2 linked regions of the Homo sapiens genome follow. The protein of the gene in region 2 interacts with the protein of the main gene of each other region in a pairwise test. Each region holds a gene or a part of one and is shown on either strand. Other genes may lie near its edges.

Evidence for each region.
Region 1: the proteins of TDG (region 2) and SERBP1 interact in a two-hybrid assay, tested with the Homo sapiens proteins (one study listed by BioGRID).

What each region holds. Positions count from the first base shown.
Region 1 is NC_000001.11:67,416,651-67,420,693, forward strand, and holds part of SERBP1 (SERPINE1 mRNA-binding protein 1), read right to left. Parts: intron 3,537-4,043; coding exon 3,359-3,536; intron 1-3,358. UniProt on the Homo sapiens protein: Ribosome-binding protein that promotes ribosome hibernation, a process during which ribosomes are stabilized in an inactive state and preserved from proteasomal degradation.
Region 2 is NC_000012.12:103,982,872-103,986,122, reverse strand, and holds part of TDG (G/T mismatch-specific thymine DNA glycosylase), read right to left. Parts: coding exon 3,189-3,251; intron 2,988-3,188; coding exon 2,905-2,987; intron 2,829-2,904; coding exon 2,734-2,828; intron 1,375-2,733; coding exon 1,203-1,374; intron 521-1,202; coding exon 395-520; intron 1-394. UniProt on the Homo sapiens protein: DNA glycosylase that plays a key role in active DNA demethylation: specifically recognizes and binds 5-formylcytosine (5fC) and 5-carboxylcytosine (5caC) in the context of CpG sites and mediates their excision through base-excision repair (BER) to install an unmethylated cytosine.

The sequences.
Region 1 (4,043 bases), on a different chromosome or scaffold from region 2:
AACTAGCCTTTAAAGTACAAATAAATTTTTGTGTTTTTATCCATGTTTTCACCCCTTACATCAACTCATACTAGTATTAAATGTCACTCCTTTGTACCAAACCAACACACTGTAAGGCAATAGAATGTTCTAATACAAATTTTAAAGGAGGCTAGAAACATAAAAACAAATTCACAAAACACCAGCAAATTAGAATCAATTATATATACTAATTGTGTGATTTTTAAATGTTTGCTATTTCAAACCAATGCTTTCAATTTATTGCAAACCACAGATCGAAAATATTCAGAAAAAAATAAAACCAACCAACCATATAACAATAAAAAGTAGGCCAGGTGTGGTGGCTGACACTTGTAATCCCAGCACTCTGGGAGGCATAGGCAGAAGGGCTGCTTGAGTCCAGGAGTTGGCACAGGTGTGTAGTTCCAGCTACTCAGGAGGCTGAGCTAGAAGGATCGCTTGAGCACGGGGAGGTTGAGGCTGCAGTAAGCTGTGACCATGCTACTGCATTCCAGCCTACATGACAGAGCAAGACCTTGTCTCAAAATAAAGTGTATGAGGGAGTGCTCACTTTGGCAGCATATATACTAAAAGTGGAACAATACAAAGATTATTAGCATGATCCCCACAAGGATGACACGCAAAACTGTAAATTGTTCTATATTTTAAATTAAAAAATAGAAACAATAAAAAATAAAGTATAGGGAAAACGTGTTTAGGCTATATGCAGATACTATGCCATTTTATATAATGGACATGAGCATCTGAAAATTTTAATATCTCTGGGTCCTGGAACGAATCCCCTGCAGATACCAAGAAACTGTACTGGGATAAAGTCAGGGCAGGGGGATCCTTTTTTTTTTTCTTTTTTCCTTTTTTTGAAACAGTCTTGCTCTGTCAACTAGGTTGGAATGCAGTGATGCTATCTTGGCTCACTGCAACCTCTGCCTCCTGGGCTCAAGTGATCCTCTCCCGCCTCAGCCTCCCAGGTAACTGAGACCACAGGTGCACGCAACCACATCCAGATAATTTTTATATTTTTTGTAGAAACAGGGTTTTGCCATGTTACCCAGGCTGGTCTCAAACTTTTAACTCAACAATCTGCCCACCTCAGCCTCCCGAAGTGCTGGGATTACAGGTGTAAGCCACTGTGTCCGACCTTTTTTCTAGAGCACTCAGACAATGAGGAGCAGAAAACAGAAACTCTGAGCTCTGTCAATAACACGGTAACACAGTTCTCCATTTGTAAATAGTTTCTTCCTTCCCCTTAACTACCTCACATTTGTCACGAGAATGAAGACATGTGAAAGTTAAAGTGTTGTTTTTTTTTTTTTTTTTTTTTTTTGAGACAGTCTTGCTCTGTTGCCCAGGCTGGAGTGCAGTGGTGTGATCTCAGCTCACTGCAACCTCTGCCTCCTGTGTTAAAGTGATTCTCCTGCCTCAGCCTCCTGAGTAGCTGGGATTACAGGCATGCACCACCACACCAGGCTAATTTTGTATCTTTAGTAGAGACGGGGTTTCTCCATGTTGGTCAGACTGGTCTTGAACTCCCGACCTCAGGTGATCCGCCCGCCTCAGTCTCCCAAAAGTGCTGGGATTACAGGTGTGAGCCACTGCGCCTGGCTGAAACCACGTGTTCTAATGCAGTTTTTTTTCTACAGGACTTAAAAAAGACAATGTCCTCATTTACTACTCATATGAAGTAAATGTTAAAAATCATCTCTAAACCTAAAAAAACTTTTAATCTTTTTAACCTCCATTTTATTTTAAAATGTTTCCAAGTTTGTCTTATAGCCATTTTGCAGTTTAAAAAATTATGCTTATTGGCTGGGCATGGTGGCACACGCCTATAATCCCAGCACTTTGGGAGGCTGAGGCAGGCGGGGATCACTGAGGCCAGGAGTTTGAGACCAGCCTGGCCAACATGATGAAACCTCATCTCTACTAAAAACACAAACATTATCCGGGCATGGTGGCGAGTGTCCGTAATCCCAGCTACTGAGGAGGTTGAGACACAAGAACTGTTTGAATCCGGGAGGTGGAGGTTGCGGTAAGCAGAGATGGTGCCACTGCATTCCAGCCTGGGCGACAGAGCCAGATTCTGTCTCAAAAAAAAAAAATAAAAATAACTAATACCTTATTGAAAGGGTTTGCCCTCACAATATTTTAATTTAACTTTACCTTAGGATGATAAAACTCAGTCTGGATTTCTGGCACAGCCCAATTTATGATATGAATAAATCAAACACAAATGTCAAAAGGTTAAAGGAAGCTGATAGAGAAAATGAATTTAGGAGAAGAAATAATATAGTTAGGGCTTGTATGAGTTTTTAAAGCCAAACAGGAAGCCGCACTGAAACATTCCTCTAAGAACACACCCCAAAGCTTAAACGGAAGCTACCAAATCAAAAGCCATCAATGTGACTTTCTCCAATACAGTTGACCCTTGAACAACGTGGCTTTGAACATTCTGCCTCTGTCAGTCTTGAGACAAGCAAGCCCAATCCCTTTTCTTCCTATCCAAAATAAAGACCTTTGTGATGATCCAGTTCCACTTAATGAACAGTAAATATATTTTCTCAACATTTTCTTTAGCTTACTTTACTGTAAAAACACAGTATATAATACGCAACATACAAAATGTGTTAACTGGTTATGTTATCACTAAGACTTTCAGTCAACAGGTTATTAGTAGTTAAGTTTTGGGAGAGTCAAAGGTTACATGTGCATTGATCTGCGGGGTCAGTGCCCCTAGCATCCTCATGTTGTTCAACAAGTCAACTGTATTTTCACTAGTTTCCATGTTTCTTAAGTAAAACCCACATATACTTTGGTTTTTAAAGTCGTCATTCCTTAGACAAAATGCACATTGCCATTTACTGAGTGTCCTGGCCATTATATATGGTATAGGCAGACAGTTTCAAAAGTTGAATTCTAAATGAAGTCACTTACATTTTAGGTTAAACCATATGAAAATGTCAAGATTTCAACCTAACACCATAATACCACAGCCCTTTAATGATCCCCAGTTTGGCAAGATTTCAAAAATACAACCACAACTTTGAAAAGAACTATCATATTTCTGAACACCAATAACTACAAGATACTCCACTAACAGCTTTTTAGGAAAAAGTAACTCTACCACATAAAACATAATTACAAATTGATCAAAGGACTAAATTTCTTAGAATATGTGATAATACAGTTTATTTTCCTTATAAAGCAAATTATCTGCCCCAAATGATCCTATGTAAAGCTTTAACAGACAAATAACCCATGTGAAATTTTAAAACAAAAATTATAAATACAATTCAAGTCACATCTGAACATTTTCAAACACGACAAAACTTAATTTTACCTCTTCACTCTTTGATTTATGAAGAACAAATCCCTTCTTCCACTGCCCATCAGCACCTTCATTTGGTTTTCGGATATTAAATTCTACTTTTGCCCGGTCCTTATTTTGAATAGCCTTCCACTCATCCAAAGTCATCTCTTTTGGACCCTCCTCTTTTACCTCTTCAACTTCATTCTCCCTGTGAAAAGGTTTTCAAGTTTTATACCTGGTAGAGAGCTGATATTACATAAAAGTATTTTAAATTTATGATTTTAATTGAGAAAATTAACCTTGTAATCTTTTAGAGAAAGATTATTCAAGGATGAGGGTACCCTAGTTTCCTATGTAACTAAGCAACTTGGTAGAGACCAGGAATTCAGTGTTTGCTAATTAGAGACAAGTAAGGAATATGGAATTCATACTTATGAACTCTTAAATGATCATTTATCAGTAATACAATCTAGAACTGGCTTTACGAATACTAAAATACACATTTCTTAAAAACACTACCTTGTTTAAAAACTACCCTCTTATGTAAAATCCTCAGCCTATCTTCTCCTAAACCACATTTTTAATTTCCATAATTCCCACAATATGTAACTCTTAATAACATACAAGAAGGTAATCCTCTAGGATGTCTGTCAGCAACCAGGGTTCAAATTTTGGAATATAAAAGAACTGTTCCTCTATGCTTTGTTTCAGCAAC
Region 2 (3,251 bases):
GGTGAAACCCTGTCTCTATTAAAAATACAAAAAAAATTAGCCAGGCATCGTGGCGGATGCCTGTAGTCCCAGCTACTCGGGAGGCTGAGGCAGGAGAATGGTGTGAACCCAGGAGGGGGAGCTTGCAGTGAGCCAAGATCGAGCCACTGCACTCTAGCCTGGGTGACACAGCGAGAATCTGTCTCAAAAACAAACAAACAAAAAAGAAAATGTACTGTAAAAGTCTGTGTAATTCAACGTGAAATAACCATCAATTTTTCACTATTAGTCACTAAATAAAATTTCATATTATCATTCCCATTCTTCAATAATTTACTCTCCTTCTATTAAAATTTTCCCCCCAATCCTGACCAAACCGTCTTTGAAAGGAATACACATGTGGAGGGAACCATACTTAGCCCATTTGAAGAGAAGCCACAAGGTTCACTGCTGCATGGATTTTCTCCGTAAGCACCACCATATGCTGCCTCATAACCTGGATCATATTTTTCTTCCTTAACAGCCATCTTCTTTGCATCCTCTGTGAGGAAGGTAAAAAGGATTTAAATCTGATTTTGTACAACAATTTTAAAAGTAGCTTTATTCAGAAATCATGAACAATTCTTTTTCTTGAATATTCATATACACTGAGATACATCTCTATTAATCTTTTAAACTTATAGCATGTACTAAATAAACACATAAGAACTGTAAAAACCGCTTACATTCAACTTTACGTAGGGTACAATATTTCTTACATCCCTCTGCTCTGGCACTCTGCAGGTGAATTATCTGCAGAAGTGCCAGAGTAGAGGGAAGACCTTGGTAAAAGGAGATTTTAACAGTGACTAATATTCATTATCAGAGCACTCTGGCTGCGAATATAATTGTTTTCTTTTTTCCTGCTTTTAAATCCATAAGATACTTTCTGTAATGTGTGTGTGTGTGTGTGTGTGTGTGTGTGTGTGTGTGTGTGTATGTGTCTATATATAGACACACACATATGTATACGCACACAAGTGTATACACACATATATGTATATAGACATACATACTTATGTGTATATATGTATATATACACATGTATATATACACGTGTGCATATATGTGCACACATATGTATATGTGTATATGTATATATGTATATGTGTATATATATGTAAGTATATATGTGTATATATACACACACAAAATGAATAAAAGGAATGAGGACAGTAACATACCTTGGGCAAGCTGTAGGTCAAATGTATATTGCACCTCTTGAACGTCCATATTTCGTTCAATGCCTTTCAACTGATCTCTTAAGTCCTTCAGTTTTATGTAGTAATGAACTTTGTCTTGGGCTCGAGGAAACTGAGCACATCTTGCACTGGATGATGGCATAACATAGCAGAGCTAGAATCACAACATTTTATAATTTCAGAAATCTTATAATTCTATTGAATTCACTCATTGAGATTAGAATATTTGTCTTTATTTGGGTTAATAACTTGATACTTAACTACATATAAATATATGTAAAAATCAATAAAAGTAGTTGCTTTTAAGGTTGAATTTGTAATACTGACTTATTACCAAGTCAGGAAGTGAAAAATAATGAGCCTCCGCCTAATGAGCTGCCTCCTGGGTTCAAGCGATTCTTCTGCCTCAGCCTCCTACGTAGCTGGGATTACAGCGCATGCCACCATGCCTGGCTAATTTTTGTATTTTTTAGTGGAGATGGGGTTTCACCATGTTGGCCAGGCTGGTCTCGAACTCCTAACCTCAGGTGATCCGCCTGCCTCGGCCTCCCAAAGTGCTGGGATTATAGGCATGAGCCACCACGCCCGGCCTCCAAATGGCATGTAACAGAGAATGACACAGTACTCTACAGGAATTTCTCTACAATTCACTACAGGTAGTGAATTTGTACCATTTTAACCAAGCAGACAAAGGTGGGCCTTTATTTAAGCAAAAACCAATGCTATAATAAAACTCATCAATTGCATATTTATAAGAAATTATGAACAAAAACAATTTTAAAGGAGAAATTTAAATATATTTAGGTGGCAGAAACATTTTTAGGTTTCCACAAAAACCTGGCAGCAAATTAGCTTCTCCATCAGTTAAGATGTTGTATATACAACATGTAAATCTGTGCACTGTGTTGTTCTTTAAAAGTTGTAAATAAAACCTAAAACTAAGAAGCAAAATTGGAACCAAATGCCTGCAGAAGCTCTGTAGAGAGGACAATTTGAAAAACACTGTTATTTCATGATGACTTTGTGTATAAGACAACAGTATTGAATGCCAGTTAGGTTGGCTGGAGGCTTGTCTGGGTTGTATTATTTATATGGCTCTAAAATGAAGTTGAGCTAAGATATATAAATGGGGCAACTGGTTTTCCTAATCAGGATCATGTCTGTGTTTCCATGTTTGTTTCACAACAGTACGAGGGCTAAACCATTTGAATTTGACAACTACATGCCATTAAATGTATTCTGAATGTAGTATATGAGCCAGTTCCTCTCAATATTTTCACTGAATAACAACATCAAGACATTTAGCTGACAAATGTTTTTCTTTCTAATAAACCCTAATAGTATTTGAATTAATTTACAACTATTAGTTAAAGCTGATGTATAGGTATTATTCAACAAAATACAGTGTAATTGTTTTGCATGGTATAAATCACAATGGATAGGACAAATAAGGAAATTATCTAGAAAAAAATTCACATTTAGCTGATTTACAAATTCAATTTTAGGGACTTACAGTTTCTGTGTCTGGAATCTTATGGGGCTGAAGCCCAAATTCCAAGTTCTTAACCTTTACTCCAAAAACTTCTTTACTAAAAATTTCATAAATACCTAAAATGAAATACAAACATATTTACATTGCCCATAATGTTAGCAAAGAAAAAAAAAATTTAAAAGTAAATCTTACATTTTCCATTAAACACTGCTATTCGTGGCTGATATTTCTGTAATTTCTGTACTAGAATACGTCCTCCTTCACGAAATTCTTTACTAAAATTGAATTAAAAAGTAGTCAAAAATATAAATATGACAATATTTATAATATGCTAAATTCAGACAGCTTTCAATGAAAGAGCATATTGTACATTTGTTGAGCTCAGCTTGAACTAGATACATATGATGTTCCTAGAATATTTGGGGCACCAGCATACTCAAGGTTCCAACCCATAAAAGCAAATGCTGTGTACTTACCTGGAGAGATCTTTGCTGCCGGGCGTGGTCCTTTCCACCATGTTGGTAAATCCAATACCATAC